Regions from separate parts of the Homo sapiens genome. Here region 2 is linked to region 1. The links come from fine-mapping of genetic effects on gene expression. Tissue or cell type: lymphoblastoid cells. Region 1 holds a variant in brackets; the other region holds the start of a gene. All regions are shown on one strand. Distances are between the middles of the regions.

Region 1 (2,764 bases):
ACCTAGCAATCCCATTACTGGGTATATACTCAAAGGATTATAAATCATTCTACTATAAAGACACATGCACATGTATGTTTATTGCAGCACTATTCATGATAGCAAAGACTTGGAACAAACCCAGATGCCCATCAATGATAGATTGGATTAAGAAAATGTGGCACATACACACCATGGAATATTATGCGGCCAAAAAGAAGGATGAGTTCATGTCCTTTGCAGGGACACAGATGCAGCTGGAAACCATCATTCTCAGCAAACTAACACAGCAACAGAAAACCAAACACCACGTGTTCTCACTCATAAGTGGGAGTTGAACAATCAGAACACATGGAAACGGAAGGGAACATCACACACTGGCCTGTTGGGGGGTGGGGGCTAGGGGAGGGATAGCATTAGGGAGAAATACGTAATGTAGATGACAGGTTGATGGGTGCAGCAAACCACCATGGCACGTGTATACCTATGTAACAAACCTGCATGTTCTGCACATGTATCCCAGAACTTAAAGTATATATATATACATATATGTATATATATAATTTATATATAAATATCTATTTATATAAATATCTATATAAATAAATATATAAATATATAAATATAAATATATATAAATATATAAATAAATATATAAATATATATAAATATAAATATATATATAACTATGAATTTATATTTATATAAATATATATCTATATGAATATAAATATATATTTATATAAATATAAATATATATATAAATATATATATTTATATAGATATAAATATATATATAAATATATATATTTATATAGATATAAATATATATCTATATATGAATATATATCTATAGGAATATAAATATATATCTATATAAATATAAATATATATAAGTATAAATATATATAAATATATATCTATATAAATATAAATATATATATAAATATAAATATATATATAAATATATATATAAATATAAATATATATATAAATATATATATATAAAAGAAGGTGTATTAAGGAAATGAGGTGGTAAGTTGCATCAGATGCTGCTTATAGGTCAAATAAGATGAGGGCTGGGAATATATTATTTGCCTTAGCAATATGGAAGTCACTGGTGACTTTGGTGGGGCCAGTGTTGGTGGAGCAATGCACGGAGAAGCCTGATTAGGTAGGGTTAAGAAAAAATGGGCCGGGCACAGTGGCTCATGCCTGTAATCCCAGCACTTTGGGAGGCCCAGGCGGGTGGATCATCTGAGGTTGGGAGTTCAAGACCAGCCTGACCAATATGGAGAAACCCTGTCTCTACTAAAATTACAAAATTAGCTGGGTGTGGTGATGCATGCCTGTAATCCCAGCTACTCGGGAGGGTGAGGCAGGAGAATTGCTTGAACCCAGGAGGTGGAGGTTGCGGTGAGCCAAGATTGCACCATTGCATTCCAGCATGGGCAACGAGAGCAAAACTCCGTCTCAAAAAACAAAGGAAACAAAAATAGAAAAAATGAGAGGAGAAGAACTAAAGACAAGTAGGGATAATGCA[A/AT]TTTTTTTTTTTTTTTTTGAGGCAGGGTCTTACTCTGTCACCCATGCTAGAGTGCAGTGGCGTGATCTTTGCTCACTGCAGCCTCTGCCTCCCGGGTTCAAGCGATTCTCCCACATCAGCCTCCCCAGTAGCTGGGACTACAGACGCACACCACCACGCCCAGCTAATTTTTGTATTTTTGGAAGAGAAAGGGTTTCACCATGTTGGCCAGGCTGGTCTCGAATTCCTGACCTCAACTGATTCCCCTGCCTTGGCCTCCCAAAGTGCTGGGATTACAGGCATGAGCCACTGCGCCTGGCTGATAATTCATTTTTTAAAAGAAATATTTAAAATTATATTTTTAAAATTGTGTTAAAGTACACATAGCATAAATGTTACATTGTCAATTAGTACATTCACACTGTTGTGCAAGCATCACCACTATCTACCTCCAGAACATCTTCATCACCGCAAAAGGAAATCCCATACCCAAAGCAGTCCCTCTCCATTTTCCCTTCCCCGAGTCCCTCTAACCACTAATCTGCTTTCTGCAAATCTCTGTGGATTTGTCTATTCTGGATATTTTATATAAATGGAATCATATTATATGTGGTCTTTTGTGTCTAGCTTCTTAATATTTTCAAGGTTCATCCATGTTGTATCAGAACTGTATTCTTTTTTATGCCTGAATAGTATTGCATTGTATCGATACACTACATTTTGTTCATCATTCCTCAGTTGATGGACATTGGGTTGTTACCATGTTTTGGCTGTTGTGAATAGTGCCACTGTGAATATTCATGTACAAGTTTTTGTTTGAGTCTATACTCAGGAGTAGAATTGCTGAGTCACATGGCAATTCTGTATTTAACTTATTGAGGAACCACCAGACTTTTCCATAGTGGCTGCACCACTTAACATTCCCACTAATAATATATGAAGGCTTCAATTTCTCCATATCCTTGATAGCACTTGTTATTTTCCATCATTTTGATTATAGCCATGCTAGTGGATATGAGTGGTATCTCATCGTGATTCTGATTTGCATATCCCTAATTACTAATGATATTGAACATCTCTTTATGTGCTTGTTGGCACAATATGTCTATCTTCTTCAGAGACAAGCCTATTTAAATCCTTTGCCTATTTTTTTTTTGAGACGGAGTCTCGCTCTGTCACCCAGGCTGGAATGCAATGGCACGGTCTCAGCTCACTGCAACCTCCGCCTCCCGGGTTCAAGTGATTCTCCTGCCTCAGCCTCCC
Region 2 (2,500 bases), 100 kb after region 1:
TTGAACACCCTATTAGGTGATGGGTTTCTTTATCTGTAAAGATAATAGCAGCCCCCATCCCCTAAAGTATTTTAGGATTCAATGAAAAAACGTAGATAAATTGATTAATACAGCACCCACATTGTAATTCAAGATTCAATAAATATAGGTTATCATTTCTGTACAGCTTTCCCCTTTCATGTCAATTCCTATTTGATACAAAAATTTCCCCAGCTGTGTTACTTTGCATTTTACTTAATCCTGAAATAAACTAAGGAACAGGTTACACTAGAGGGGGTACCTAAATCAACCTGAGGACAAGGACGGCCAAGGAGAAATTACAGGTGTTTGATATCCACCCCACTCCCCCAACCTTTAATGGCTTTTTTAAGTTTCTATAGGGTAGCAACTATTTTATGCATCTCAATATAGGATGGATGAAGGATATGAAAAACAGATGAATCTTATCTAGCACAATGCCTATTCCCACTATGGTCATTCTCAATAATCAGATTATTGGTCATAGATGGGAATTTAGAGATCATGCAGTACAAACTTATTTGTGTAAGTAAAAAAAAACGAAGCTCAGGGTCGATAAGTGACTTGCCCAACAGTGAAAGAGTCTTATCTGGAATCCAGGTATCTAGACCCACTCAGTCCATGAGTTCTCCCACGGGTTTACACGAACGCGCCACATTAATGAAGGCAAGGGACTGACAAACTACGAAGGCGTGTTTTCATCTACTCTGTCCCATCCTGTGTGTCAACCTTATTTATGTTATTTCAAGTTAGACATCACCTAAATACAGCCCACAGTTTACGAAATCTGTCAAAAGCATCGTAGAAACAGAAAGCGAAGGAGGACTATCGTATGAGTACCGCTGGAGGAGACGTAGAGTTGAGGGTACCAAGCGAAGGGAATTGCCTGTGGACAGAGGAGACAAGTTCATACTCCGAAAAAATAGGAAAACGAGAAAGGCTACTGGGCCACATAATATCTTCTCTTCTTGCAGAGGGCCCCCAAAACAGCAATACCTGGGGAGGAGATACCTACGGCATTCTGAGATTCGGGAAAGCACCACTGCCGCTGAATAAAACGAACCCAGCAACTTCCGAAAACAGAAAATCCGCCAAAGGAAACGCCAAGGCATGAAAAGCGCGCGCTGGACGTTGCGTCAAGCCCACCGCGGCCGGGCGGAAACATCCTCCCCGCGACGAAGGATCCGGGTGTGCGCGAGCAAAGGAGCGAGCGGGGAGTTCTAGGCCCAGGACAGCACCTATTTCCTGCTGGTGTAACAGAGCACCTTCTCTCACTACTCTGGCCATACCACCCCCGCGATAGAGGAGCAACACAGCTGTCTCTGTGCGCTCCGGATCAGCGCTTCCTAGATTTCTAGCCGGATCGTTTGGAGAAGGGCTCTGCATCTTATTTCCGGTGGCGGTGAGGTGCAGTTGCCATGGTGATTAGAGAAAGGCCGAGATCTGTCCAGCTGCGGTGAGAGGAACGCTGAATCGCCGAAGAGAATTGGCTGCGCTTCCTTGTTTGTGAGCTAGAATTAGGTAGCAAACAGCTCGCTGTCTCTGTCTCTTCGCTCCCTCTGTCCCTCTCTGTGCAGCTGCTTCTCCTTCCTCTGCTTTGTCTACTTCTCTGTCATAAACATTTGGTCCATGTATGTACCTAAAATGTACATGTAAATGCGGTTTTATTTCCAGAGGAATACAAAAATAGAGAGATGGTGCCCGAGATTACCTGTGACGGTATTTCACTGTGTAGGGACGGTGACTGGACGGCTTTCTGTTTTCACTTGGCCCTGTAGAAGCCTTAGGCGCTTGTTAACAGTTTATTTTTCTTGCTATTGTGTGGCTGGTTATTTATGGAGCCGTTTGCTGCAATGTACTCTCTAGGCCCCTGTCTCAGTCTCGGGCCGGAGTTTTAAGTAAGGGAGGTTTCCAAGCCTGCGGGGGGTGCAATTATATGTTTATTTAAGCTTTAGTTTGGTTTCTCGTCACAGAAAGGAAAAGAATAAAATTCTGGCACATTTCTGCCTTGGGATTTCCATGTGAGGGAGTTGCCTTGTTTGGAAAGAATATTTGAGGACGATCCTAAAATATACTTATATTTTAAAATTGCTTATTGCAAAGTGAAATTCATTCTCCCTTACTTCTTGAAACAGTTTTCTTTCACATTTGTGAGGAGATGCATGCACACATATGTGTTTAGAACTCTGATGCTTAATTATAGTATTACCAATTTGCAGTAACCAGACTGTGACACCACATCCCTGTGGGGTCCTTCTAAATCTGGTGTAATATGAAAGTGTCAGGCAGGCGGCCTGCGTATTATAAATAGGGTACTTCATCCATGATAAGCAATTATTATCTTTCTTTCCCAAGTGTAAATGATCTATATAATTCGAAAAGGTGCAAGTGATTTAGGCCTCCTGAGTAGGAATGCAATGAGTCCTGAAGGGGACCCTACCTGTGTTATCTTATTATTGAACTTGAAATATTCAATTTATTA

Alleles and levels. Alleles are on the strand shown, and positions count from the first base shown. SD is a standard deviation of normalised expression in the study named.
As copies of AT replace A in region 1, the expression in lymphoblastoid cells of the gene that starts at base 1,130 in region 2 goes up (moderate effect, 0.43 SD a copy in TwinsUK).

Evidence for each region. PIP is the estimated chance that this variant, and not a neighbour inherited with it, causes the effect.
Region 2: ITGB3BP starts here. The variant in region 1 is fine-mapped to the expression of ITGB3BP in lymphoblastoid cells (TwinsUK, PIP 0.95).

Annotation. Positions count from the first base shown.
Region 1 is chr1:63,421,502-63,424,265 of GRCh38, forward strand. The region is part of intron 12 of ALG6 (ALG6 alpha-1,3-glucosyltransferase); the gene reads left to right. Among named protein-coding and RNA genes, the nearest start is that of ALG6, 55 kb to the left of the region's middle. The variant A/AT (reference allele first, on the strand shown) is at 1,523.
Region 2 is chr1:63,522,096-63,524,595 of GRCh38, forward strand. It overlaps ITGB3BP (integrin subunit beta 3 binding protein), which reads right to left and starts at 1,130. Exons shown (of 9, transcript NM_014288.5): 1 at 1,034-1,130. The coding sequence starts at 1,038. It overlaps EFCAB7 (EF-hand calcium binding domain 7), which reads left to right and starts at 1,430. Exons shown (of 14, transcript NM_032437.4): 1 at 1,430-1,539. RefSeq lists enhancers at 529-1,152, 1,314-1,393.